Linked DNA regions of Homo sapiens: all the other regions are linked to region 3. Evidence: fine-mapped expression QTL. A gene starts in region 3. Each other region holds a variant in brackets. All regions are shown on one strand. Distances are between the middles of the regions.

Region 1 (10,074 bases), 26 kb before region 3:
TCTAGGTAGACACTTTCACTGGATAGGTACAGGCCTTTCCTACAGGGTCTGAGAAGGCCACCGCAGTCATTTCTTCCCTTCTGTCAGACATAATTCCTCAGTTTAGCCTTCCCACCTCTATACAGTCTGATAACAGACCAGCCTTTATTAGTCAAATCAGCCAAGCAGTTTTTCAGGCTCTTAGTATTCAAGGAAACCTTTATGTCCCTTACGGTCCTCCGTCTTCAGGAAAAGTAGAACGGACTAAAGGTCTTTTAAAAACACACCTCACCAAGCTCAGCCACCAGCTTAAAAAGGACTGGACAATACTTTTACCACTTTTCCTTCTCAGAAGTCAGACCTGTGCTCAGAATGCTACAGGGTACAGCCCATTTGAGCTCCTGTATAGACGCTCCTTTTTATTAGGCCCCAGTCTCATTCCAGACACCAGACCAACTTAGACTGTGCCCCAAAAAACTTGTCATCCCTACTATCTTCTGTCTAGTCATACTCCTATTCACCGTTCTCAACTACTCATACATGCCCTGCTCTTGTTTACACTGCCGGTTTACACTGTTTCTCCAAGACATCACAGCTGATATCTCCTGGTGCTATCCCCAAACTGCCACTCTAAACTCTTGAAGTAAATAAATAATCTTTACTGGCAAGGCTATGCTGAACCTCCTTAGGCACTCTCTAATTAGATGTCCTAGGTCCTCCCAATTCTTAGTCCTTTAATACCTGTTTTCTCCTTCTCTTATTCCGTTTAGTTTTTCAATTCATACAAAACTGTATCCAGGCCATCACCAATAATTCTAAATGACAAATGTTTCTTCTAACAACCCCACAATATCACCCCTTACCACAAAAACTTCCTTCAGCTTAATCTCTCCCACTCTAGGTTCCCACGCCGCCCCTAATCCCGCTCGAAGCAGCCCTGAGAAACATCGTCCATTATCTCTCCACACCACCCCCCAAAATTTTCACCGTCCCAACACTTTACCACTATTTCGTTTTATTTTTCTTATTAATATAAGAAGACAGGAATGTCAGGCCTCTGAGCTCAAGCTAAGCCATCATATCCCCTGTGACCTGCACGTACACATCCAGATGGCCGGTTCCTGCCTTAACTGATGACATTCCACCACGAAAGAAGTGAAAATGACCTGTTCGTGCCTTAACTGATGACATTGTCTTGTGAAATTCCTTCTCCTGGCTCATCCTGGCTCAAAAGCTCCCCCACTGAGTACATTGTGACCCCCACTCCTGCCCGCCAGAGAACAGCCCCCTTTGACTGTAATTTTCCTTTATCTACCCAAATCCTATAAAACAGCCCCACCTTTATCTCCCTTGGCTGACTCTCTTTTCGGACTCAGCCCGCCTGCACCCAGGTGAAATAAACAGCCTTGTTGCTAACACAAAGCCTGTTTGGTGGTCTCTTCACACGGATGTGCATGAAACCAATGAAAAAAAGACCAAAACAACAACCAAAACAGAAACAAAGAACAACAAAAAACAGCTAAGCAAAGCAAACAATGCCACAATTTATAGGTTGGTGCAAAAGTAATTGTGCTTTTTGCCATTAAAAAGAATGCAAAACCGCAATTACTTTTGCACCAACCTAATATATGATTACCAAGCGCTCTAATGGTAAGGATAAATTAAAACCAGCTGATTGTTAATTTTAACTTTAGCCAAGACAAAAGCCCAATTCAGCTACTTACCTAGGAATGGGGCTCAGGCTGAACACTGCTCTCTACCATCTTTGAAGCAGGAAAAAACTCAAACTCGCCTTCCCTGTTGGAAGTGAGCTGAAATTCCAGAAAGGAGTTACCTGCACTCTTCATCATGGAAGCAGGAAAACTTGCCTTCCTTTTTGGGAGCAAGTGAAACTCCAGAAAAGGAGTTATACAGCAAAATAAACTTTAGATCTCAACCAAATTTGGAGAGATCAGGGATTCTCTTGGTCGGGGGTGGGGGTGTCTCCCAGGCCTCAGCCAATTGTCCTACTGGCTTGAGCCATAAAGATAGCTCAAGCTGGTACCAAGCACCAACAGTAGATTTGTCAAAGGTCAGGGGTACCTCCACTCAGAATCCCTTCATGGTTACCAATTTGTGAATCCAAAATATCTGAGACAGGCCTCAGTCAATTTAGAAAGTTTATTTTGCCAAGGTTAAGGATGCACCCATGACACAGCCTCAAGAGGTCCTGGCTACATGGGCCCAAGGTGGTCGGAGCACAGCTTGGTTCTACACATTTTAGGGAGACGTGAGACATCAATCAACATGTGTAAGATGTACATTGGTTCCGTCCAGACAGGCAGGACAACTCGAATCAGGGGAGGGGGCTTCCAGATCACAGGTAGATAAGAGACATTTGTTGCATTCTATTGGGTCTCTGATTAGCCTTTCACTGAATATACAATTCACATGGGAGAGGAGGGTGGAGGAATAGTCACTTATGCCTGGTCTGCCTTGGTGAAACGACAGGGCAGAGGAAGCAATCAGATATGCATTTGTCTCACATGAGCCTCAGAGGGATGACTTTGAGCTCTGTCTGTCCTTTGTCCACGAGGAATTTCCTTGTGGGCAAATTGTGAGGGAGGTATGTCTTTTTTTTTTTTTTATCTTTGTAGCTGTCTTATTTAGGAATAAAATGGGAGGCAGGTTTGCTTGACGCAGTTCCCAGCTTGACTTCCCTTTAGCTTAGTGATTTTGGGGTCCCAAGATTTATTTTCCTTTCACAACTCCCATCTGATATATTTAAGGGGGAATTCTTTTGTGCCTACAGCATTGTTAGTGGAATGTGGAGCGACAGCAAGGGATGGGCCTAGCTGGAATTTACCACCAGGGGGCTTGGACTCTTTCTCATGCGTCAACACCAATCACTGCCAATAGGGGGCAGCAACAATTTGCCTACAGCCTTTAGGCTTTGGTTTTAGACTCAAGGAGCTCAGGGTGTGGAATCTCCATTGTTTTTCCTCTGAAACTTGGCTTCTTATCTGCCTGCGGACTCAAATCCTCCTCCTGCCAATACTACAACAGCCACAGAACAAATGCATTGAAACTGAGAGAACTGGTAAGAGGCTAGATCTAGTGTAAATCAGAGAATGGGCCTCATAAAAGGAGCAGTTTGGAGGAACCTAATCCTTCACAGTTTGTCTAGCAATTTCTAGGTTCAATCAATTGAGGGCTTAACTGGTAAACTCAAGTGGAAATTTTTTATTGGCTCCTGGTGATGTCACTCCTGGTGAGTGTGGGAGAACTGGTTTTCTAGGTGTGGGGATTCTTTATTCTCTGAAACACCCACTAGGAAACGCCCTGAGGCCTTTTCACCTTCTGTGGTGTCAGGACCTCTCATGTAACTGGATACAGTGCTTTTCCCAAACAGACTATACACAACAGAAACTCAAAAAATAGAAACGCTAAGTGGGAATAAGGGAAATAAACTACAAGAGTAGTGGTTCTCGACCTTGGCTGCACATGGGAATCACCTGGGAGCTTCAATCCGCAAGGACCAATGCCAGGGACCCCCCTACCCCCTGCCCCCGAGATTTGGATTAACTGGTCTGCATGCAACCAGGGCAGCTGGCGTTTTGAAAGGTCCCCAGGTGGTTCCCATGTACAGCCAAACTGAGAACCATTGTCAGATGTGCAGTCTTTGCTCCTGGGTCAATTAATTCCTCACGCCCACTAACTACTTTAGATGTCTTATGCTTTGAGCACATTTAAAATAAAACCCAAAACTTAATAAAACAAAGTTAGTACACAGAGAAATAGGAACCTGATTAAAATAGAACATGAAGTCAAGTCAGTTTGGTTTTGTTTTAAATCTCCAATTGCCACCATTAATTCTGCTCCCAAAGGTCAATAATGCTAGCCTGCTATTTGCTTTGTTCACTTCTGAATGAAGCACTTGTGTTTGCTGACCTTCAAACACTTCCAGGTTGTCTAAGAGGAAGCCATGTGGCACTTTGACTTTTGTGTGACCTGGCAATTTGTTTACATCAAATCCCTTTTAACCCTCTGCAGTTGACAGTGGAGAATTCAGTATTTTCATATGCTGCCTAACCTCTAGGGTGGAAGGCTTTAAACTTGATTTAGGTCAAGTTGGCAGTGACCCAGGTGAGCCCCCAGGAAACTGCACTTCCACAGCCAAAACGTGGCCATCCACCAACTTAGGCATGACAGTTACAGTTTTGAACCTGCTATTAAGTCCCACAATTCTCTTGGTTAGTTAGAGTAATCAAACCTGTCAAGGGTAGGCAGAACTGGAGGAGTGAAGAATGGTTTTGAGGGTACAGTGGAAAAATCAACTTTGGAGTATGACAAGCCAGCCTCAACACTCAGTCACTCTTACCAGCTGTGAGATCTTAGGTGGGTTTATCACTGGCTGTGAGCTTGACTTGCCTATCTATACTATAAAGGAATAAAAGCCCCTTCAGGTGGTTTTTCTTAAATAAATGGAATAGACCTGTCATGTGCTGGTAAATGTTTAACAACTGGTTCTCAAGGTGGTGGGGGCAGCCCTGATTTGGAGTATTTCCATGGTGTAAATACTGTCACCATGGCAGATCTCAAGACACCAGTGTGACAGCTCTGAATGTGGAATTGGGAAGAGGTATGCGCCATCTGGGATAAACCATCTCCTAGTACCTACCTAGAATGCAGCAGACACTCAGGATGTTATCCCCTGCCCTTCCCCCTCATAGGAACATCTATGCTGACAGAGACCTTTGCCATTATTAAAGCATTTTTACAAACACTATCTCATTACATTCTCAGGTGAGATGGGCAGGGCGGGTCTTATTTCTACTTTTTACAGACAAGAAGCCTCAGGCTCAGAGAGACTGGACAAAATTGCTCAGGGGCACACAGCAAGTAATCTACAAAATGAGCATAGCAGGCAGAGTAGCAGCCCCAAAACATGTCTGCATCCTAATCCCTGGAACCTATGAATATTTGGTTACATGGCAAAAGGGAATTTTGACTGCAGACGGATTTAATATTGCTAGTCAGGTGACCTCCAAGTAGGGAGATCATCCTAGATTATCCGGGTGGGCCTAGTGTAGTGACAAGGGCCCTTAAAAGTGAAGGAGGGCAGCTCAAGAGGAGAGTCAGGGGGAAATGTGACTATGCAGGACTGGTCAGAGAGATGTGACATTGCCAGCTTTGAAGATGGAGGAAGCAAGGAATCTAGAAGGCCTCTAGAAGCTGGAAAGGCAGGGAAGCAGCTTCTCCCCCAGAACCTCCATGAAAAGATGTAGCCTACCAGGTACGTTGATTTTGGCCCAGTGAGACTTCTGACCTCCAGAACTTTAAGATGATCAATTTGTGTTGTTTAAGCTGCTGGATCTGTGGTCCTTTGCTACTACAGGGATAGGAAATGAATTCAACGGGACTGGCAATCAGATCTCCTTATCCCTCAAATCTCAGCTCAAATTTCACCTCTTGAGGGAGCCATGTTTTTCCTGCCTTTTCTAGGCCTCTGGTTTTACCCGAGTTCTGATAATATCTGGCTTTAGGCACTCACCAGATGGTTGTGAATCTTTGCATACTTGCTGGTTTTCTCCCTAATCCCCAAGTGGCAAGAATATTCTTTTCACTTTGCATCACTTTCCACTAGCACAGCTCCTTCCCCAAGACCACAGCATAATAACTGCATTCAGAATGTGTGAGTGTGAAAATAGAGGAATGAATGAATGGGAGCTGACATTAACAATAGTACTGCACCCCAGCACCACCAGGAATCACGATGCTGAGCTGTCACTGTTGCAGAACAATTAAAAGCATCTCCTGCTAGTATCCTGAGCTACCTACCCCCTTCCTGCAGGAAAGACTTCCCGTCTTCCCACTGGCTCACAGAAGTGGCCTTTTCCTCCGGAAACCAGCGTGCATCTGTTAGCATCTTTTGTCTTTTGTGGGAAAGGGAGGATTCTGGCTCCAGACTGAAGAGGGACAGGCATGGTGTGTGGGTTCACAGAGCCCCAGACTCCAGACTCTGATGCCAGCATCTTTGTCTCAGCAAAGGTCATAATTGGATTTGGATGTTTAAGGCAGTCACTGATTTACTGTTCTCATTTTTCAAGTGTGAGAAATACTAACTCTGTGCTTTGCTTACTTCTAAAGGAACAAAGGCAGTATGAGCAGCCTTTAAATACTGCCACATAATACACTGAGAGCAGACATGACCACGTGCTACAAAGAGTCAGGGCTACGTAGGAAAGTT[C/G]ACATCGGCGTGGGAAGTGAAAGTAAGCCACGTCACCGTTTCTGTCACGTGACAGCTGTGGGGTGTGGAGCAACTCACTGAGCCTCTTTCCTGGTGTGTAAGATGGGGATAATGATAGCTCCCATTCACTGACCGCTTCCAAAGTGCCTGACCCTGTTCTAAGCCTTCACTGTCATCCTGATTTTATAGTTAGACAGTTTGTCAGTGTCAGAAGCAGAATTGGCTACATAGTTTGCAAGTCCAGTGCCCTGGTTCAAAAATGATTAAGAATTTCAAGATGGTGGTAGCAGAGCAAAAAACCAAGCCCGGAGCCCTCCTTAGTGTGGCTCTTATGTGACTGCACAGGCTGCACACCCTGGGCAGAATTAGTATACAAATCCTGCAGCCTGACTCCAGAACCTTCCATCTTAACATCTATGCCACAAGAGCTGTCTCCTAAGGTGGCCGTGAGGTTGGAAATGAGACTAAGGCATTCCTGGCAGAGGGCACAGTGTGAATGATCTGGAAATACAGGCGTGGACAGGAAGATGAGGAAGGAATGATAAACTCTCATGGCTAAAGCTTTGGTGAGCTGAAGGAAACAGAAGTGTGCTGGTAGGCAGTACTGGCTGCAAACTGTGCCCTCCCTGAAGGCCAACTATAAAGTGCAAGGCCCTTGTACTTTATAGGCGACTGGTGTTGAGGATCGCTGGAAGGTTTAGAAGCAGGGGGTAGCATGGACGCAGGCAGAGAACTGCCCCTAGGGGGAAGTGTGGAGCAGAGCAGACTGGGGCCTGGGCACCCGCTAGAGGAGGCCGTTACAACCACACTCTAGGGATCTCATAGTGAGAGGCTCAGGGAGTAGAGGAAGGAAACAGGGAAAACTGAAGGTCTTCAAGGTAAGTAGAAATTATAGCTTTGGAATACGATCTGGAAACAGGAAACTGGGGGAAAGGAAAAGCTTCTGATGCCTGCTGGCCTGGCCTTCTGTTTGAGCGCCATCAGGCCCGTATGGAGTATCATGATGTACACAGACTGCCTTTGCACCCATAGAAAACAGGGTACATCTCTTCAGGAAGTAGAAACTCTTTGAGCAAAAGAAATCGATTTAACTTCCTAAAAACAACAGCTGTTACTGGCTATAAACTCAGTCATTTCTCAATTTGGGTTTTTCCCCCAAAATATTCCCTTCCAATTTTCAGAGGCATAATCAGTTCTGTGATTATGTTGCTTGCACATAATTAGATCACACAGTAATAATAATAACTGTAAACTCTGGAGGAAACAGAGTGCAATTAAAACCAGAAAGAAAAAAATCTCCCAAACCTCTCCCAGATTCTTCTCTCAAACTTGGGAGTGGGGCACCTCAAGCCCAGTGAAGGAATCAACATATTTTACCCCAAAATATATTTCTTTGACATATTTTGAGATGGCTGTTCACAGGGCCCGCAAACAGAAGCAGCCCTACAAAACTGTCTCATGTGGCGAAGATTTGCATCTGCAGAGAAAAACTACGTTGATACAGCCAGGCTTTCTCTGAGGCTCTCTCTTGTCCATATCTAGGAAAAACTGAGAGTCTGATACCTTTAAAGGTCTGAAAGAAACATTTACTATCTATTCTGTCTGAGAGCGGCTACCTCTGAGATTTCTCCTATGTAACAAGAACGCCTTTGCCAGCCAGGCCTCCTCTTCTCCCCATGCCATAATCTCTTTGCCAAGATCCAAGCCTCCAGTCTTTCTGTAACCTCAAGGCTTCTGTACCCCACTGCGGGGATTGGTAATCACTCTATGGTTCTCCTCCATGTGCACAATAAATTTGTATGCTTTTTCTCCAATTAATCTGCCTTTTAATTTATTATTATTATAAATTTTTTTTGAGACGGAGTCTTGCTCTGTTGCCCAGGCTGGAGTGCAGTGGTGTGATCTCAGCTCACTGCAACCTCCGCCTCCCAGGTTCAAGCAATTCTCCTGCCTCAGCCTCCCGAGTAGCTGGGATTACAGGTGCACGCCACCAAGCCTGGCTAATTTTTGTATTTTTAGTAGAGACAGGGTTTCACCATGTTGGCCAGGCTGGTCTCAAACTCCTGACCTTGTGATCCGCCTGCCTTGGCCTCCCAAAGTGCTGGGATTACAGGCGTGAGCCACCATGCCCGGCCTATTATATATATTTTAATGCTCTCTCTCAGCAGAGTCAAGAGGATTAGTTATCGGTGTGTTGGACATACTGAGTATAGGGGGTCTGTGGGATATGTAAGAAGAAATGACTACTGGGCTGTTGCATATGTGGTTCTTCATCTCATTTTGTTTTAGAGCCAGAGTCTCACTCTGTCACTTAGACTGGAGTTCAGTGGCGAGGCTTTTTTTTTTTTAGACAGGGTCTTAACTCTGTTGTTTAGGCTGGAGTGCAGTGGCACAATCATAGCTCACTGTAACCTTGAACTCCTGGGCTCAAGCAACCCTCCCACTTCAGCCTCCTGAGTAGCTGAGATGACAGGCACGTACCACCACTCCTGAATTTTTTAAAAAATGTTTTAGGCATGTACCACCACAACTAAAAATTAGGCGTGTGCCACCACACCTAGTATTTAAAAAAATGTTTTCGTAGAGACGGTGATCTCGTTATGTTGCCCAGGCTAGTCTCAAACTCCTGGACCCATGTGATCCTCTGGCCTCAAGCGATCCTCCAGCCTCAGCCTCAGCCTCCCAAAGTGCTCAGATTATACCCAGTGTGCCCAGTCTATTAATCTGCCTTTTTTGAGTTGATTTTTCAGTAAACCTTCAGAGGGCGAAGGGGAGGTTTTCCCTTGGCCCCTACCCTGGATTCAAATCCTAGCTCCCACTTCCCAACAATGTGACTTTGGGCAAGTCAGGTAACCTGGTTCTCTTCTATAATGTGAGGGAACCATTCTAGCACTTAACCTCAATCATACTGCATTACCTTGTTCTGAAGTTTAAATGAGAAATTCTTAGACTAGCCTTCAGCATGTAGTAAAGCAGGCCATAAATGTCAGATATTATCATAATCTCCAGATTTTCTACAGTGATTCTTGAATGACATTTAAGATCAGAAACATCCATGTAATTCTCATATTACTATCATTGTTATGTATTCTTTCTCTCCGAATGAAGAATGAAGGTACCATCCACTGACACCACAGTCACGAGGTTGGGTCAAGCCTTATGACCACCCTAGAAGCCTAGACAGAAGGGTTCAAAGGCTCTTCCTCTCATATGGGCTAGTAATAAACAGGGTCTCTAACAGAATAGCGGAAACCTGAGTTGAGCATGTTCATGAGGGAGGGGAAGCTGACGCCCACATCAGCACTTGTTTTCGAAGAGGAGCTGTCTTGGCCCAGAGCCGTGGCTCACGCCTGTAATCCCAGTATTTTGGGAGGCCAAAGTGGGAGAATTGCTTGAGCCCAAGAGTTCAAGTCTAGCCTGGGCAACATAGTGAGACCGTGTCTCTAGAAAAAATTTAAAAAATTAGACAGGCATGGTGGTGTGTGCCTGTGATCCCAGCTACTCGGGAGGCTGAGGTGGGAAGATTGCTTGAGCCTAGGAGGTCGAGGCTACAGTGAGCTATGATCACACCACTGCACTCCAGCCTGAGCAACAGAGCAAGACCCCGTCTTAAAAAAAAAAAAAAAAAAAAAAAGAGGAGCTCTCCAGATTAATAACAATCTCCCCAGTTTTCATGATTCAGGCGTCAAATCCTGCTGCCCCATATGGTTCTCACCACTCAACGAGTATTATTTACAGAGGGCCGTCGTTGCTATGTCCTGGAGATACAGAGACAAATAGGACCCAGGCCGACCACTGAGGAGATCCAACCTGATGGGGAAAGAAGACAGAGAACACACAAGTGGGGCTAGACACGGTGGCTCACA
Region 2 (10,074 bases), 130 kb after region 3:
AAATAGTCTGATCAAGTCAGCAAATAAGAAATGTCAATCACTCAGGTTTTGTCGTTGGCACAAGGAAATCAAAACAATGGGGTGATTCAATATCTTTCCCTTTCTTTTCTTATTTTTTTTTTTGGTTTGTTTTTAAACATTTATTTTTTCCACTGCTCTCTTGTTGTGTTGATAGTCATTTTCTGAACAAAAACAGAACACTTTCTACTTGATTTTCTTTGCCATTTTTTGAGAGACTATCGAATGTACTTGTCCTGAAACTGTTTTCAGAGCAGAATTTAGCTTTCTCAGTGGGACTGGTAATGCAATGGGAATTAGCCCTACATTTTCCACATTGATTTCCTGCAGCTCAACTTCCATATGAGTTGTTTTAATGTATAACTTATTGGATCTGTCATGATTTGGAGTTAATTTCTTTCTTATTCTAAAGAGCACACAGGATTGCTTAGGGAGAAATGACCATGGACTGGCAGAGGCTTCCTTATTAGGAAGTCAATGTATCTGCCACTGAAACCCCACATCATGGACCTCGGAAGCCTCCATCATGGTGGGGGATTTGGTTCTCTGCTCCGCATATTTTTTTTTTTTTTTTTTTTTTTTTTTGAGATGGAGTTTCACTCTGTCACCCAGGCTGGAGTGCAGTGGCGTGATCTCGGCTCACTGTATCCTCCACCTCCTGGGTTTAAGCAATTCTCTGCCTCAGCCTCCCGAGTAGCTGAGATTACAGGCGTCCACCACCACACCAGGCTATTTTTTTTTTTTGTATTTTTAGTAGAGATGGGGTTTCAGCATCTTGGCCAGGCTGATCTTGAACTCCTGACCTCATGATCTACCCGCCTTGGCCTCCCAAAGTACTGGGATTACAGGCATGAGCCACCACGCCCGGCCTCCTCTGTATATTTTTTATGGAATCACTTCTTTCTTATTTTAGTTCCACTAGCACAAGTAAGTTTTGATTTGGGAAATGGTGAACATATTACTGCACATGTTTTGTGGGCCCACAGACTCTATCATAGACTTTTTGTTGTTGTTGTTGTTGTTAATGTCCGATTTAATGATATAAAATTTACCTACAGTATAATTTAACCCTTTTATGAATACAATTCTATGAGTTTTGTAAAACAAATGTAGAGATGTAACTACCACCACAACTAAGATATTGAGTATATCACCCCACAAAGTTCCACTTTGCTTCTTTGAAGTCAGTCTCCTCCCACCAATCCCCAGTTCCTGGAAACTACTGATCTGTTTTGTGTACCTATAGCTTTGTTTTTTCCAGAATGTTGTATTAATGGAACCATATAAAATGTGGCCTTTTGTCTCTCACTGTTTTCACTCAGCATGACGCTTCTGAGATTCATTTATGTTGTGCATATCAGTACTTGTTTCTTTTTATATCTGAGCAGTATTCCATTACATGGATATACCAAAGTTTGTTTATACATTTACCTATTAATAGAGCATTTGGATTGTTTCTAGTTTGGGGCAATTATGAACAGTGCTGCTATGAACTTTCTCTTAGAAGTACTTGCGTAGACAAGCATTTCCATTCTATTAGTAAATTACCTAGGAGTAGAAATGCTGAGTTGTATGCTGTGTTAAAAGAAACTCCCATACAGTTTTCCAAAGTGGCAGTATCATTTTGCATTTCCACTAGTATTTGATAAGATTTCCAATTGCTTTGCATCCTTGGCAGTATTGTCAGTTTTTTTTTTTGTTTTTTTGTTTTTTGTTTTTTTTTTTATTATAAGCCAGGCATAGCCCCAGTTACTTGGGAGGCTGAGGCAGGAGGCTCGCTTGAACCCAGGAGTTTGAGGTTGCAGTGAGCTAGGATCACTCCACTGTACTCCAGCATGGGCAACAGAGTGAAACCCCATATCTAGAAAATATTTAAAAATAGTTAAGTAAAAACTGTAGACATTCTCTTGGGTTTTCAGTGGCATTGCATTGTGCTTTTAGTTTGCATTGCCCTAATGACTAATTATATTGAACATTGCCCTAATGACTAATGATATTGAACATTCATGAGCTTCATGAGTGTATTTGCCATCTGTTTCTCGTGTGTAATCAAATCTTTTGATCATTTTTTAATTGAGTTGTTTGTTTTGTTTGATTATTGGAATGTGACAGTTCTTTAGATATTTCTCGATATGAGTTTTTAAAATCAGATACATGATTTGCAAATATTTTATCCAAACTCTTGACTAGCTTTTTTATTCTCTTACCAGTGTCCTATTATACACTCTCATTTGCAGTGAATTGGGGTTGTTTCTTGCCTTCACCCCTGTCATCTTGGACAGCAGGGTAAGGAGATAGGTGGTGCCATTGGCTTCTGGTCCAATGCATAACACTCTGGCTTAAGGTCTATTATGGGTTGAATGTTTTGTGTTTACCCCTAATTTACATGATGAAATCCTAACCCCCCAATGAGATGGTATTAAGAGATGGGGCCTTTAGGACATAATTAGGTCATGAGAGCTTGTTCTTGCTCTCTGCTCTCCATTATGTGAGGATACAATGAGAAGATAGACATCTGCAAACCAAGAGGTGGGCCCCCACCAGACACTGGATTTGCCAGCACCTTGATCTTGGACTTCCCAGCCTCCAGAACCATGAGAAATAAATGTTTACTGTTCAAGCCACCCAGTCTCTGGTACTTTGTTATAGCAGCTCATGCTGACTAAGACAAGGTCAGTCTCCAGAGAGAAGAATATTGACCTAAACATTGGATTCTTCACTTCTCTAACTGCAGAGTACATAGAATAATTGGGAAAGTTTGATTAGTATGCAGATTTCCAAGCTCCACTTCCAGAAATGTTTATTCAGTACCTGTGAAGTGAGACCTAGATTGTTGCGATATTTAATAAGCAGCCAGATTATCCTGATATAGGTGGCTCTGGGATGAGACTTTGAGAAATCCTGAATATCTAAAGCCACTCATGATGCTTCATGTCTGGTGTGGTAAAGATGCGAAGTCTATGTCCAGGCCTAAACAAGATGGTGAGGTGTAAGTCAGAGCAGGGGATGTTGCCACACAATTAGACAAAAAGAGAAGAATCACCAAGAATGCAGGGATTTTAGGGCATTTATACTGAACATTCAGCCTGTTCCCTCATCCATCACTCTGCTATCATAGGCATGTCGTAATAAAAGTGGCTTTCATGTGTGATATTTTATTTGAATATAAACTGGAGGGGAAAGGTTGTTGACAAATAAATAAATTTTGGCACACTAAAAAATATCAATCAGGCTGCTGTGGAGGTTCATGCCTATAATCCCAGAACTTTGGGAGGCCAAGGTGGGAGGATCACTTGAGGCCAAAAGTTCAAGACCAGCCTGGGTAACATAGCAAGACCTCATCTCTATTTAAAAAAAAAAAAAATCAATTCTTAACCTTGATCCTGAATAAGAATATTGTCTCCTTATGTCATACATTACTGGGCTGCCAGCTATGGTGCTGTGATGGATTCTGGTTCATATTTTTAGGTCCACTGTTCTTACAGGAAGTCATCATGACCTTTTTCAACAGGGATGTGTGGAAGCTCTTTGGTCTTACAGTAATACTTTTCTAGACAAAAGTAGAACTTGTCCTGCTTATTTTCAAAAAAATTCATGAAGGATATTGGAGTATGAATCATTATTGTGTTTTAGAGAAAAGGAAACACAGACAGTAGCAACAAAACACCCAACTTCTATGTAAGGGCAAAGGGAATTTTTCCCTTCCCCTCTGAAGGTTTGAGTCTGCTGAAATAAACTGATAAAGAGGAGAAAGGGCATACAAGTTTATTAATGTGTAAGTGTGTATGGGAGCCATACAAAATATGATACTAAAAGAAGGGCCAGATGGGTGAAGCTTAAATAGCACATTCTTCACAGAAGGGAGAGAAATAGAGGAATGTAGGCAATTTTGAGGTGTAATGAATGATTTTCAGGGGAAATGAATAAGCCCATAGAAGAGACAATAGCCTGGGACAAAATTTCTCTGAGCTCTGGAGAGGTGGCTGACAAATTTCAAGAAAGTGAGGGGTAGAACTTCACTATGAACAAAGGTTGTCTTATTATGTAAGTAAAATCTTCCAGGTAATCTCTTGGACCTTGCCTCAGAAGAATAGAAGTCTGCCTGGGCATGGAGGTGACTTTTAGTCTTTTCTCCTCTTTGGTGGCCAATCTTTCCTGGTTATTTGATGAGATTCATAGATAAGGGGTTTTAAGAAAATTGAATCTCTTTTCCAAGAAGTTTTCTTCCCACAGATAAAGGAACTCCCAGAGAGAGCCCCTTCATGCACTTTAGGGGTAGAAACAAGGGAAGGTTACAAAGTCCTTGGTTCTAAAGGCAGCTTTTAAGGACTTCCAATTTCCTTCACTTCAAAAGTGCTCAGCATGCCACAGCTGATACTTTGGGGTATCATTCTCTGAGCCCCAACCTCTATAAAATCCAGGCATCCAGATATTTGGACTATGTAATACCAAACAAACCAGTTGATCTGTTTTTCCTGAATTGGACAAACTATTCTGACATTGCATAAGTACAACCAGCATGATTTAAGTTTTATTTGCAGACAGAAACCAATTGGGACTGACCTGATTTTCTATGTTAATTAATCAAATATTGTTGTTCAAACATTTTGGTACCTCTCAGCTAAAAGAATTTAAAAGTCCTGTTACTTTAATCCTGTTGTGGAATGTTTTTTAAAACTTATAGCTAATTAACAATCTTCATGGGCAACTAGAGCACCTCAGGCTCTGGTAAACATAAGGGATCAATGGTTATTAATCAAAGGTGGTGTAGTTGGAAGAAGCCTGGAGTAGGAGGCAAGAGACCTAGGTTCTACTGCTTGCTTGAGCTGAACTGTGCTTCCTTAAGCTTCCATGAGAGTAGATACCTTCTAGCAAAAAAAAAAATAAGAGAGAGAGAGAGAGACTAGATACTTAAGGAAACATACATTTGTAAAAAGACTAAAACCAAAGTGATTAACTACTGTCTAAATATAATTCATTCCCAAAACAGGCAAGCAAACAAACAACAAAACAATCCTAACAATGTAGGTGTTTATGTACCTCCCATATAAAAAGGATCTGAAACCCTGAAGCCACAGGATTCAACCAGGCAAGTAGAGAATTATTTTCTTTATTTTAAAACAATACTAAAGTCATGCATAATTAATGCTGAAAAATTAGAAAATAAGGAAAAAGAAACTAATCAATGAATAAAATCAATTAAAACTCTACCACCCAGTAAAAACCACTGCTAGCATATCAGTGCTATATTCGTCCATAGATCCATATACATACATGATGCATGTATATTTCAAATGGGATCATGTTGTAGCCACTGTCCTGAAATCCTGAAATCTGCTTCTTTGAGCTAATGCCGTATTGTGAAGCAGCTTGCGTGCTAATAAATATGCATCTTCATCACCCATTGTAATGACTACATTATATTCCATTGTAGGCTTGAAAATATTAACAACTAACAAACCTAGTGCTTCCTCTGTGCCCAGCACTTTTCTAAGCACTGTAACAGCATGCCTGTGAGGTAGGTAGTATGATTACTCCTGTTTTACAGAGAAACTGAGTTAAGGAGAAGGTAATTAACTTGCCATTTGGGGTTCAACCCCAAATGGTCCAGGATCAGAGTCCAAGCTCTGAACACCTGGCCATGCTGCTCCTTGCCTCTTCCTTTTGGTTGGATCTTTATGTTATGTCTAATAGTTCATTATTTTAAACAGTGCAGGTTAATTTAAACCTCTACGTCCTCAAAAGAGTGGTGGTGGAGGGTGGAGGTAGAAGGGGAAGCATTGATAAGAGATGACTTTTTAATAAGAGAGTAACAGAGAGACATTCTTTTGGATAAAATCAGATTAGAAGGTGTTCATTCTCATGGTAAAAGTGAGAGCTCATAAAATCACTGTAGTTACTTAGGGGAGGGGGAATTTTCAGGCATGTGCAGAAGGCGTATTTGCAGGACTGTGAGACAGACAGATTTCACCAATTACATAGATCTACATGGAAGAAAATGTTAATAGCAACTGCGTAGTAGAAAAGAGTAGCCCTGCTAATGAAAATACAGAGTTAATTTTCTGTAGTCTGAACTTTGACCCATTGTGAAGACAGAAATAGAAGTCCTTGGCAATTAGAGTAGGAACTTGCTGTGAAGGAAGTGAACATTCATTTGAGACTGGGTGTG[G/C]TGGGAAATAAAGCAAATGATGACTCACAGACAGATCAGCGGACAAGGCGAGGCTAGGCCTGGGAGGAGCGAGGAGACCTGAACGAAGCTAGGCAGGCGCTTCTCTGTTCAGACTCACAAGGCGTCACTGGCTCACTCTGGACACAGAATATCTTTACTGATAGCTGCACATCATTATTATTTCATTTTACAAATTACACAACTGGCATATTCCCACTGTAGAATAGTTTTAAAGTGAGATGAATAAGAAGAAAGTAAAGTGAAATCCATCCATTACCTTAGACATTCTTAGATACCCATATTAAGAGTTGGCATATATTTTCACATTATTTTCCTATATACTTTTAAAATAAAGATGGGATTTTCACCACTCAACAATAAACATATAATTGCATCATTTTTCATATAATGGGATGCTATGTAGCCATTAGAAATGATAAAAATATGTTATTTGACCAAATAGTAATGGGCATTGTGCGTACATGGTCTTAACTAGCCAGTAACCATTTTTCCTTTGGTTCATGGAATTCATGAATTCTACAAAGTTAATCTTATATTGGGGTGATCTCATTGACTTTTAAGTGCCACTGCAGTTAAGTAAGAGTGGGGATGGGGTATGAACTTCAGGAGTGAAAAAAAACAAAAACAAAAACAAAACAAAATGCTTTATTACAATATCTTTTCCAAACTACTTTGGATGGCCCCGAGGAGGTCAGAAAAAGAGGAGAGCGATTATCATTAATCTTATTCCTCTCTTTACAGCCACATTAACCTGAAAGAACAAAAATGTAGAATACCTTCCTCATCTTCTCACTTTTTCTTTAACTCTCACATAGTAAGGAATCCAGAAGAATAAGGCTACAAAGCTACAGGCAAAACAGTAACAGGAATGGCAAGCATGTCCTGTTTGTGGACTAAAAACACAGAGCATTCCTTGGAAAGCCAAACTTTTGATATTGAGATTAGAAAGAGGTTTTCTAGGGCAGCACATGTCCAAGTATTAAACACAAGTCAGATCTTATGAAAGTCTAAGCAGGTCATAAAACAACCCAATGAGCTTAGAAGAGTGGAGAGCTATAGTTAGAGTGCCTGGACCCTTGATTATCTTATTTCCATGAGCTCTAATTAGCATAGTACAGAAGACATTAATGCAATCAGCCACAATTATTTATTGAGTTTCTACTATGTGTCAGATGGTTTTTTGGGTCGTGGGTATGTAATACCGAACAAAAGCATCATGGTGCCTACCCTCACAGAACTTATAAATTAGCAGCAGGGTGGGGAGTGGGGGGTGGTAAACAAGTGAACAGGTAGACAAATCATTCTAAAGAGGGACAAGATTCTAAATAGACATTTTTCCAAATAGGCTATTCAAATGGCTAATACCCACGTGGAAAGATCCTCAATTAGTCATAAGGGAAATACAAATCAAAACCACAATGAGATATTTCATCAAACACACAAGAAGGGCTATTATAAAAAAAGACAAACAACAACAAATGTTGGTGAGGATGTGGAGAAATTAGAACTCTTTTACACTGCTGATGGGATTGTAAAATGGTAGAGCCACTTTGGAAAGCAGTTTGACAGTTCCTCAAAAGTTTAAACACAGAGTTACCATATTGTTACCTTATGCAATAAAGAATTTGGGTCGAGCCCATAGGGTAAAGTGAAAGAAAGTAAAGGAATAAAAGAATGGCTACTCTATAGGAGTAGGATCACTCCATAGTAGTGGCATGAGCTGCCCGACTGAGTATACTTATGGTTATTTCTTGATCATATGCTAAACAAGGGGTGGATTATTCTTGAGGTTTCTGGGAAAGAGGTGGGCAATTCCTGGAAGTAAAGGCTCCTCCCATTTGTAGATCATTTAGGGTAACTTCTGGACATTGCCATGGCATTTGTAAACTGTCATGGTGCTGGTGGAAGTGCCTCTTAGCATGCCAACGCGTTATAACTAGTGTATAATGAGCAGTGAGGACAACCAGAGTTCACTTACGTTGCCACCTTGGTTTTGGTGGGTTTTGACCAGCTTCTTTACTGCAACCTGTTTTATCAGCAAGGTCTTATTGACCTGTATCTTCTGCTGACCTCCTATCTCACCCTGTGACTGAAAATGCCTAACCTACTGGGAATGCAGCCCAGCAGGTCTCAGCCTTATTTTACTCAGCCCCTATTCAAGATGGAGTCACTCCGGTTTGAACGTCTCTGACAATATGACCCTGCAAGTTCTGTCCTAAAGAAAATAAAAACATACATCCACACAAAAACTTGTACACAAATGTTCATAGCAGCATTATTGATAAAAGACAAGAAGTAGAAACAACCCAAATGCCCAGCAACAGATGAATGGATCAACAAAACATGAATAAATAAAATATACATATGGTGGAATATTATTCAACCATAAAAAGGATTGAATTATTGATACATGCTACAACATGGATCAACCTTGAAAGCATCATGCTAAGTGAAAGAAGTCAGTCACAAAATGCCAGAAATTGTATAATCCCATTTATAAGAGATGTCCAAAATAGGCAAATCCATAGAGACAGAAAGTAGGTTAATGGTTGCCAGGGACTGAGGGTATGGGGGAATGGGGCGAGACTGCTAATGGATATGGGGTTTTCTTTGGAGGTGATAAAAATGTTCTAAAGTTGATCGTGGTAACAGCTACACATCTTTGTGAATGTACTAACAGCCACTGAATTGTACACTTTAACAGGATCAATTGTACGACTCGTGAGTTATTCCTTAACAAAGCTGTAAAAAACAAAAGGTGATGAAGTGTGTTGAGGAAACAGAAAGAAGCCCTGAGACACGAAAGGGCCTTGTGTGCTCCAGGAATGAAAGAGGAGGCCCGTGTGATCGAATGCTCTAGAGGGCTCGGAGGGGACAGCGGATCTCGTGTTTAGGCACATGAAGTCAGTAATTATAGGCAGTTTGGGATTATGTTCAATGGGCAGTGGAAAGTCCTAGAAGCCTCTAACACCCAGCAGTTATGTGACCCAACTTTTATCTTTAATAGCTCTTTGTTCCTGAATTGTTAGGGCAGAACTAGATTGCTATTATAGCTCCTAAAACCAGATAGAGATCATTAACTTAAAAATTTGGAGTTAAAATTAGCAAGGGGCTATTTTCTTTTGATTTAGGACACATACTAGGAAAATGAGGATATCAAAATACTTCTTTCTTAATAGCACAAAAGAAGAGCCTTATTATAGTAAATAATGTAAGTTTTTCATTTTTTAAACCTAAGCATATTCTGTTGCTTCTATAGGACACAAGTTGAGAATTAAACCATTTATTCATGCTCAGTATCACATTTATATTACACATAGGTTCAGGTTTAATTGCATTTAAGAGAAGGAGGGAGTAGAAGATGTTTAGCAAAGGTCATGGTGGAGTGAGCCAAGGCATTCCTGTATGTCAAATGTGGGATCATTGGTCTATCCCCACAGGGCACAGGGGACCGGGAATTCTTCTGGCTTCTTGGTTGAAAATGTGAAGATGTTATTGGGACTAATGATTGAATTGTACAGATCTGGAGACTAATACTCCCAGATGAAAAGAGATGGGCTTTGCCAACCTCAGGGAGGGCAAGTAAACAGCTCAGGAAAACAAGGAGCAGAACTGTGCTGGAAGGCAGCTGAAGGCAGTGTGCTCAGCCTGGGACAGCAACTCAGAGCCCAGCAGTGGGGAGTGAACAAGCTCCAGTGTGGCACCTGCCAGGGGTCCCAAAAATGCCCAGGTCTCACTCCGTTACCTAGGCTGGAGTGTAGTGGTACAATCTCGGCTCATTGCAACCTCCGCCTTCTGGGCTCAAGAGATTCTCGTGCCTCAGTCTCCCGAGTAGCTGAGACTACCGGCACATGCCACCACGCCCA
Region 3 (10,074 bases):
CGAGGTGGAAGGATTGCTTGAGCCCAGGAACTTGAGACCAGCCTGGGCAACATAGAGAGAACCTGTTTCTTAAAAAAAAAAAAGAAAAAAAGAGAAAAAACATCTACATGATGAAAAAGCTAGACAGCTGATTGAGACAGAATATAACTTTACCCTTATCTGGCGTATGGAACAAAGCCTTTAAAAGGCCTTAGGATTCTAGAGAAGAGTAGTGTTTAAATGAGGCGGCTTCTGAGCCAGCCAGTCTGAGTTCAAATCCTGCCTTTGGCTTTCGTTGTGTTTTCTTGGGGAAGTTATTTAATCCCTCTAGAATTCTCTCATCTGCAAAATGAGGAGAATAATGGTGCCACTGTCATAGGATTGTGTGAGGATTCGGGAAATACTACATGGAAAGCTTCCCAGTATATGGAAAGCACTCAGAAAGCACTTGCTGTTATTACTGCTATGGGTACAGCCATGATTGTTACTATCATTATTCTACAACCTGGCCCCTGCCTGGTTCCCAGCGTTATTTCCTGTCACTTTCTCTCATTTTACGCAAGTGCCTGCCAAGCTAAGCTACTCATTGCCCCCTGCGTTAACTCGAAGATTCTCTGCTTCCGTATTGTTCCCTGGCTGTGTGGAGGCTGAGTAACCACTTGGAGGGGATGTTGTAGAGGAAAATTCAAGCCACAGAAGGGAAACTGGGTTGAATGAGATCCCCTTTTACATTTCTTTTGGCTCTAAAGTTTCCATCGGATCAATAAAGCAAACAGGACAATTAGCAGCACGGCACTCAGCACTGAGCACAGGCGAGGGTGTTCTTTCACTCCTCTTTGCTTTCCTGCCACCCCCTGCTCGCCTTCCTCTTTGCACCATGTGGGTCCGCTCTGGGTGGGAGTCCTGGAGAAAGATACTTCAACTAAAGATAAGGCAGAGATAGGCCTCGGTGGAAAGACTTGGTAGACAGACCTGGGCATTTGATTAAGAGCAAATTGCTTAAATTCTCGGAGCCTCAATTTCTTTAGTAGTAAAATGGGGATATTAGTACTCACTCCATAGGGTAAGAATGGAATCAGATATTGTTTAAAAGGGCTTATAGCTGAGGTTACAAGATATAGCTAGTCTACTAAATATCCTTTCTCTTTTCATTTTCCTGTTATTCACAGGGGGGACTTAGGCTGTGTCTTTAAGGGGTTTTAGATTCCAATCAGTGGAAGGAGGGCTCTGCTGTGAGGGAGACCAGATGGAGACTGCAGGGGCCACAGGGGAACGTGGGGTGCAGGCAGGTGGGGCAGATGGTAGGAGGCCCTGAAACTCAGACAAAGGGATCTGGGCTTGAGAAAGCAAGAGCTGGGAGCTCAGCTTTGTTCCTGTTCTTCCGTTCCTCCCTCCTCTTCCTTCTTCTCTTCTTCTGGTAAGTTTTTGGCACAAAATTAAATAGGTTCAAACTAATAGAACTCATTTTCATGAATTCAGACTTCTAGCCAACTTCTCCATGGTTAGAAATAGCCACGACTCTATCCCAGGCCCGCCCTGGAAAGCAAAATAAAACTGCGTCCCCTGCCACCTTTTCCGGGTTCCACCAGACACAGGGTTGGAGGGGAACCGCCCTTCAACGCAGGCAATGTTGGCACATTTTTCATTGGGCGCTGTGGCCCGTGAGATGAGGAAGGCAGGACAGGCGCAAAGTGGACTCTACTTATCTTTCACCAGAGAGCCCCAAGGCCAGAGTGCACCATACAACCCGGAGTCACCCAAGGCCTTTTTTTTTGGGGGGGGGTCTCACTGGGAACAATGTCTGCACCCATTGTAAGCAGTTCCTTTGCCCCTGTGTGCCTCTGTCTTTTTAATTGGGATCGAAAACTGCTACCTCAATGGTAGTTGTGCCCGGCACATACTAACAGACTTATAAATGTAGCTGCCTGGGGCAGGGATGATCCTGGAACATTCTGACATCTAGAACATTAAGACTAAATGGATTTAATTATCTGGGGAGAAGAAAGCAAGACAATTAGAGTCACAGGTTCAACACCTGAGTTCAAGTACCTCCCTCATTTAAGAAAATCAATTCATGGAAGGCTGAGGCAGAGAATGGCTTGAATCCGGGAGGTGGAGGTTGCAGTGAGCCGAGATCACATCACTGCACTCCAGCCTGGGTGACAGAGCGAGACTGTCTCAAAAAAAGAAAAGAAAAGAAAATCAATTCAATGCAGTGGGAGAACTGTTATTGAGCAATTACTATCCACCAGACGCTGTGGAAAGCACAACTGCCTAGCTCCTCACACTCTTCCTGGTGATTCTCGGGTACAGACTAAGAGGATGTGGGGAGGACTTTTACATGCTCTTGGCATATATAACAGAGTGGCTACCAGCTGAGGTAACCCAATGATGGCTCTCTAAGCCTCAGTTTCCCCATCTGGAAATTTCTTATGGAAAGGCGGTGGGAAAGAAAGGAAAAAACAAATGTAAAACTTACGTTACAATGCCTGACTCTTAGAAAATATCAACCGACAGGAGTTGTCATGTTTTATTTGCTGTAAAACTACCAAAAGATCTTCTATCAACATTTTGTAAGTGAAAATAATAATATATATTCATATGTATTAATTATATAGAAATAATATATAATAATATATAAATGTCTCTATAGGAGAAATAATATCAAGACACCTAAAATTTTTAATTAATTCTAAACACTAAGACAATTATTTTATTATTTTTCCTCAACCTTCCATCCTAAATCATACGAATAATAACAATAGAAAGAGCTTACTAATTGTCATGCACTGTCCGAAGCATTTACTCCTCCCAACAACCCTGTGAGGTCGGTGTTGCAATGAACCCATTTTACAGATGAGAAAACTCCAGCACAGAAAGATTCATTCACATGGCCAGAGTCATGCAACTTTTAAGAATATTCCTTTGGTTTGCATTTCCTTGTATCTGCACCACCCTTCCCTTTCCTGTCTCTCTAGGTCTCCTGACCGGTTGGCAGGTCAGTCCCAATCATGGGAACTCTTTTCCTTTAAGCAGTCGTCTCTCTTTCTCTTCCTCTCTGTTTCCACCTGCCCTCCATCAGTGTCTCAGCACAGTGGAAGGCTGCTTGCTACCGCACTGGAAAACTTCTCCAGACATTTCCAAGTTTGCATTCGTCCATCTCCTTTGGAGAATTGCTTCAGTGAGGCCTAACCCTTTCTGAGGAAAGGCCCTTGGGAGAAGAAGCCAGGAGAAGGTAGTGGCACTCCTTTGTCATCAGGAGACATTGGGAGGAAAGAAATGATTTTCGACAGCAGCTGGGTGAGGGGAAACAGAATCACAGAACCTGCGGAAACGGTGTCGGTACAACGGCAGCTGCCAGCTAAACGGGCGAAAAGGCACCCTGCAAGATCTTTTCTGTGTTTCAACGATGAAGTAGACTCCCAACATGGAACAGGGGCGGGGGGGCTGTTACCAGACAGGTGACATTTGGTGCATGCACGAACAGGTCCAGTGCCCCATTCGGAGGCCAGGAAGGCAGCCACCCAGCAGAGCATTAACTAGGGGACCAGACGGTCACCTGCCCCTGCTCACCCCCACCTCCTTCCTCCCCAGGAAAAAGGAAGTCAAGTAGATGGAGAAACGGGGAAGTCCAAGCTGCTGGCAGTGGCATTCAAGGGTCTATATATAAGGTTGACTCTAATCCCCAGCGAGACAAAAGCCTGTGCCATAAAAATGATTAGCAAGGGGTTTCTAAAAACATTTCCCCAGGCCACGGAAAAGGAGAAGGAATATTTTGCACACTGCCTTGTCTCTTAGAAATAATCACAGCTAGGCCTCTTTATAACCGGCGAGTCTTTTTCCTTTCACACGCCATTTGCAGGCGCGTGGCATGGTATTTGTAACTAATTTTCAGTAGCAAGTGGGTCACTGGTATTCACAGAGTCAGGTGCCATTTTGAAAACTGCTTCCCTCTACCCGAATCTCTTATATTTCCAGATGCAGATGCACTTCAGCGATGTCCTAGTGCTGGAAACGCTCCCTTGAAAATATAATTTGATTTTTGAATTTCATCTTAAGACATTAGAGATAATGTAACTGTAGTCTTTGGAATTCAACGCTGGCCTCCTTAGCCATCACTTTTAAAATTTATGAAAATAAGGAAGAGGAAGGTAAAGAACTTCCTCATTGTCCGGCAGTAAAGTCAATGGCAGAGCTTGAGCTTGACTTATTTTGCTAAGAGGGAGGTGTTTTACCCTATAAACTCCAAATTACCTTACACCCAGCAAATACTACTGTTGAGTGCTCACAAAAATTATGCTGATGAAACAATATGGATGTTTCAGTGATGAAACTTTCTCTTTTAAAATCACTTAAGGGTGCTTTACGTCCCACCCAAGGCAAGAGGAACGCCAGCGAGGAAGACAAAGAGGCCCGGGGTGGGGCGCATGCCCGCCACTGGACTGAAAGCTGAGTCACAGGAATCGTACCCCTGCAGCGGGCCAGGCCCTCCAGGGAGGGACACCGCGCCCTTGTGTGGAGATGTCCACAGTAGACAAAGGCAGTTTCGAAATAAAAGAATGCCTGTCACCCCAGGTGCCACCCCGACCCTTAGTTATTATGCACTGGTCCCCAAGAGCAATTTCTGCGCTGCTGTTGCAAAAATTCATCGTAATGAAATAAACGTAAAAGGGGAAAATGTGTTATGAAGTGTTGGAGGGTGCTTTGCTCATTTTTTTCGCCATCGTTGTGGTTAGGGTGCATGCACTAGTGGACCCCGGGTGGGGGTGGGGCTCCCCTCCCCAAAAGCCCGGCAGGCCTCCGGATGCCGTTCCGAGACGCGGCGCGAAGGAGTTAAGCGGGCCGGCGGGTGACATCACCTCATTTACATAGGAGCGCCCATAAAGCTGCGCCCGCCGCACCCCGCCCGACAACTCGGTGGTGGCCACTGCGCAGACCAGACTTCGCTCGTACTCGTGCGCCTCGCTTCGGTGAGCCCCAGGGCCCCTGCCTCCTTCCTCCTGCCGTCCTGCCTCCGTCCCCGCCCTTTCATCATCCGCGTCCCTGTGAAGGCATTCCCTAAATCCGAGCCCGAGTGGTTCTCCCCGGGAAGGCTACTTTGGGGAGCTGGGGGGATGCGAAACACCCTAGATACTGGATAATGGGGTGGGGAAATCGATGATTTAAGAACAAAACCGAAAAACTGGCGTTTTGCCGTGCCGCTCGGAGGGGACATTAAAAAATTTCTTAGTGTTTGCCCGCAAAGGTATTGTGCGTTGCCTTGGAGGCTGAGATATGGGGGAATAGACAAGTCCTTTGTTCTGAGGTTCATCTTCCGAGCCCCGAGCCTCCTCCCAGCCTCGGACGGCTGCGCGGGCTGCATCTGTGCAGCCTGGCGGCGGCGGGGCTGTGCTATGACATCTTTACAGTCCTTCTTGCAGAGACATGTGTGCCAGGGATGCCGAATTGCCGGGAGAGCAGGCAAGACCGGCTTCGGGGCGCGCGGCGGCCGCTTTGTGTGCGGGGCTGCATTGTGACGCGGGCGATGAAGCCGGTAGGGCGGTGGTCGGAAGCTCCAGCCGCGGCCGCCGCCTTTGTGAGAGGACTAGAAAGCCGGATCCGGCCCGCATCCTTGCGGAGAGGCCGCGGCTAGGAAATGGAAACGCTTTTCCTACCTGGGCTCCATTTTAGGAATTCTTGCCGATTTTTCCCACTTGAATTTGGAAGTGGCTTTCCTCTTCTTTCCTTGTCCTAGCCAGCCTTTAATTTTAAACGCTGTAATTAACAATTCGCAGTGGTCAATTTCCTTTATTCTGCAAGATTCGGCTTTGAGAGGCATCCGCCCTCTTTGGTCCACAGCGTTTTGAAATATGGGGAGGAGGGGCGCGGGGGGTGTCGCCTCTTTTTCTGTAGAAAGAGGAAGCTCGTGAGCGCGGAACGGCAGCAGTAGGAGAGCGAGAAGGGTTTTTTTCAGGCTGCGGGTCGGAGGGCAGAAGTGCAGTTCCCAGCCCAGAGACAGCGGGGCGGGTGGCTCTTCCTCACGCTCGCTCTTGGCTTGCTCCCTGCAGCTTTTCCTCCGCAACCATGTCTGACAAACCCGATATGGCTGAGATCGAGAAATTCGATAAGTCGAAACTGAAGAAGACAGAGACGCAAGAGAAAAATCCACTGCCTTCCAAAGAAAGTGAGCTCCGACCCACCCCCATCTTTAGAAAGGCTGGGTGGGAGCGGCCGGTGGGAGGGCGGGAGGCTGGGAGCGGCCGCGGGAAGAATTCGGGAGGGGGGAGTGCGGGGGAAGAGCCGACAGTTGATGAATGTGGCTTGCAAAGGTTAATTAAAAATGGTTTTGCAGCCAACAAACACGGGGCTTTAGTAATTTAGTAATGGAATATTTAATATGCCATATTAATATACAAACATTTATCCATTAAAATGTATTTCTATTTAGTATATTCAATATACATATTTTATTCCATTGTGGAATACCGTGTAGAATGTTTATGATTTGAAAAGATGCTTTAAATGAAAGCCCTTTAGTCTGTACTGAATCCTTTAATCATCTCCCTCCATCTTTTTTTTTTTTTTTTTTCTGGTCACAGCGATTGAACAGGAGAAGCAAGCAGGCGAATCGTAATGAGGCGTGCGCCGCCAATATGCACTGTACATTCCACAAGCATTGCCTTCTTATTTTACTTCTTTTAGCTGTTTAACTTTGTAAGATGCAAAGAGGTTGGATCAAGTTTAAATGACTGTGCTGCCCCTTTCACATCAAAGAACTACTGACAACGAAGGCCGCGCCTGCCTTTCCCATCTGTCTATCTATCTGGCTGGCAGGGAAGGAAAGAACTTGCATGTTGGTGAAGGAAGAAGTGGGGTGGAAGAAGTGGGGTGGGACGACAGTGAAATCTAGAGTAAAACCAAGCTGGCCCAAGGTGTCCTGCAGGCTGTAATGCAGTTTAATCAGAGTGCCATTTTTTTTTTTGTTCAAATGATTTTAATTATTGGAATGCACAATTTTTTTAATATGCAAATAAAAAGTTTAAAAACTTAGCTGGTGTGTCTGTTTGGTTTCTGGAAGGATCGCGGATGAAACCTTTGCAAAGAGGCCTACCTCTTGGTCCATTGGGGAGGGACAAGCATCTGGTGACTGGATAAATTCCCTTATGGCATAGAAATGGGTTTCACCCAGGTATGCAAAATACCTTGTCTATACTAGGAGATCATTTTCTCAGGCTGATTGAATTCCTAGTATGAATTGTGTGAGAGCTTTAATAAAAATATCTTTGCAGTTCTTACGGGTTTTGATAAGCTGACATTGCACGTGCTCAAGAAAATGAAGGTGATAATTTACAGCACAGTATCTTATTTCAGGGTATCAAATTGAACTTGGTTATTTAACCAAGTGCTAGCATTAACATAGATGAGTAAAAATTACATTTTTAGCAGCTGCGTTAAGAAGGAATTTAGGACTTGAGCTTACTCATTTTCTAATGGCCGGTTTCTAATCAGAGTTCAATATTTACAATTGCTTTAATGAATACAGTTAAGATTAGTGAACATGATTTTAAATTTATTGGGTCCTCTTCATTTGAATAATCTTTGGATTTAAAAGATACTTATTCGATCTTTTGGGTTTAAAGGACACTAGCAGGACACAGGTGAGATTTGTACTAAGTTTAAATCCAGCGGGAATTAATTGACTCACATTTAGGTCTTTGAGTCCTTGATAACTTCTCAATCATCGGAAGTAGTTATTTTCACTGATGGGTAAAAGCAAAGTCCTTGGTGCGGGAAGACGGAAACAACGTCAATTTTTTAAGAGTTAAAAAAAGATTTGCCATTCTATAAGGTCCTTAATGGATTCCTCGGTTCTGTAGGGAAGGGTGGAGACTTTTTTTTTTAAATAAGCACCAGTTTTATTAAGCCGAAACAACAGCATTTAAGAAGGCTCTTAGTTCACTGAATGTTCTGCAAAGCTAAATTTTACAACGCAAATGTCCAAGAAGTTAAACATTTTTCTCTCAAAACCGATTTATGAAAATACCCTTTTTGAAGCGGAGGGGTAGGGAAAATTGTTGATCACTATTAAATTGGTTGCTTTCATTTCCTTTGCTCAACGCTTATTTTGAGAAATGCACAGGAAACCATTTACCTGTGGTTTAGACAATCAAGTAGACCATCAGGCTAGAAGCCTTGCTCTGCGTTGCAAGGGAAGGGGTGTGTACAGGCTGCTGCAGAGGCTGCTACAAAACCTGAAGCGCCACAGCCCGCTTAGCTCCGTGAAGAGAGGAGTAAGCACAAAGGTTCTGGAGCCATCTCAAGATGGAGACGGGCCTGGAGCCCTGTAGTTTTCTTGCCTATAGGGAAGGGTGTGGGCACAGTGCAAATGCCCAAGGCACAAAGAGAAACCATTCCCACGTGGGCTTTTGCTGTGTGCCTTTTTCAAACAATGCAAAGACGAAAGAAGATTTTAAGAAATTAACACAGCTCCAGTGTTCCTCAGTTGAAGAAGGAACATTTAGGAAAAGGGATAATTCATGGACTAAAAGACCTTTCTCCCCTAGAGGGACGAAGCTAAAACATAGCACAAAAAAAAAAAAGTAAAATGGTAATGATTGAATTCAGGCTGCTTGACGTGTGGAATGGGGAAATTCAGAAGCTTCTGCCCATATCACACTCTGTACACTTAACTGCTGCACACGGGGATGGGAGAGAATTTATTTTTTTAATTTTGATGGGGGATTCTTTGTTTTTCCCAAGAGAGATTCTTCCCAGAAGGGCTGGGGGTATTTATGAGTCAGTGTGGGGATATATGTTCCTGCTATGTAGGACTTGGGAGTCGACAGTATTTTTCACAGATACAAAGAGGACATTAGGTTTACCCTTAGAATGAGAGAACGTTGGGATTGAAGGAGACCCTATGACTGTTTCTCTTCCCCCCAGGACAAAACAGGCCAAGGTAGCTTAAGTAAGCCCCGAAGGTCACACAGTTTAGTCTGGGATTTCTGCAAATTTTGAATTGACCAAGACAAATAAAGCAAAAATAAAGGAAATAAAAAGAGACTCACTAAAGGACCTTTGAGATTGAGCTGGCTTCATTTTGAAATCTCGCAAATTTGTCAACCATCACAGCCACATTTGCAGCCTTCCAGTGGTTGGAATTTTAAAGCTATTTTATTCTTTCAGGAGAACAACACAGCTTTTGGGCTGTGTATGCAAAGATTGAGTGTGTATGGGGGGGAGGTGGGGTTCAAAATCTTCACAAACTTTGAGTCTCTCGGCTGTGTAAGAGACCCATTATAGTCAGAATCAGGTATTGTCTCCTTTAAATGCACAAGGAAGGTCTGTTTATTTTCCCCCAAAGAAGCATCTAATTCCTCAAGAGACAAAAAGAAAATATTTTTGCATTTTTTTTTTCTAAACATATGGGGTCAATTTTGTGCTAACGAGAAAGAACAGAGCGTTTTGGAGACAATATTACAGACAAAGAGTAAAAATAAAAAATCTTGAGTCTTTCTTTGTTCAAGAATGGAAACTTCAAACGTTGTTTAAAAACGTTGAAAGCACTCAATGCTTCATTTACCCTAGTAGCCTTCACTAGCCTAGCAAGAAAATAAGAAAAAACCACCCTCCGCACTCCACACTCCCCAAATCCTTTCTTTTCGATTACACTTTCAAGAGTGGCTTACACTGCAATCTAAGAGAATCAAACACACCAATTTGGGACTCAACTAGGTTTTCTCTGCATGTAATGAGAAGGGGTGAAATTACAAATGTAAGGCAGAGATATACAACAAAGCAAGCTAGGAAGAAAATATGTTTCTAAGACCTGTATTTACCTAGTTTATATTTTCCTTGGACACTTGCATAGCATTTTATTTCTGTAATCACATTGTCGTGCTAATACCATCTTTGCCCCTGGCTTCTGAGACTTTTGTAGGCAGGGCTGGTGCATGCCACATTCACTGTGTGCATACACCACGCACTCTTCCTTCTGTGCCTCAAAGCACACTTCTCCCCTTACTTGATGGAGACTTCATTTTTTTTTATTTTTATTTTTTTTGAGATGGGGTCTCTCTCTGTCACAGGCAGGAGGGCAGTGGCGCAATCTCGGCT

Direction of the effects. Alleles are on the strand shown, and positions count from the first base shown. SD is a standard deviation of normalised expression in the study named. Not every link is listed here.
For the expression in adrenal gland of the gene that starts at base 4,891 in region 3, G is the low allele of the variant in region 2 and C is the other (moderate effect, 0.46 SD a copy in GTEx).

Evidence for each region.
Region 1: its variant is fine-mapped to the expression of TMSB4X in whole blood (TOPMed, PIP above 0.99).
Region 2: its variant is fine-mapped to the expression of TMSB4X in adrenal gland (GTEx, PIP above 0.99).

Annotation. Positions count from the first base shown.
Region 1 is chrX:12,944,101-12,954,174 of GRCh38, forward strand. No RefSeq gene overlaps it. Among named protein-coding and RNA genes, the nearest start is that of TLR8-AS1, 5.8 kb to the left of the region's middle. RefSeq lists cis regulatory regions at 2,665-3,108, 6,070-6,482, 6,752-7,181 and enhancers at 2,983-3,112, 6,110-6,404, 6,810-7,104, 7,035-7,264. The variant C/G (reference allele first, on the strand shown) is at 6,209.
Region 2 is chrX:13,095,701-13,105,774 of GRCh38, forward strand. LOC105373133 (a long non-coding RNA gene) reads left to right here. Exons shown (of 4, transcript NR_171577.1): 4 at 1-95. Among named protein-coding and RNA genes, the nearest start is that of FAM9C, 56 kb to the left of the region's middle. RefSeq lists a silencer at 7,150-7,444. The variant G/C (reference allele first, on the strand shown) is at 6,188.
Region 3 is chrX:12,970,220-12,980,293 of GRCh38, forward strand. It overlaps TMSB4X (thymosin beta 4 X-linked), which reads left to right and starts at 4,891. Exons shown (of 3, transcript NM_021109.4): 1 at 4,891-4,949; 2 at 6,027-6,142; 3 at 6,558-7,004. The coding sequence starts at 6,043. The coding sequence ends at 6,592. RefSeq lists enhancers at 3,328-3,397, 3,408-3,667, 3,688-3,807, 3,931-4,770, 5,610-6,448 and 2 more and a cis regulatory region at 8,057-8,349.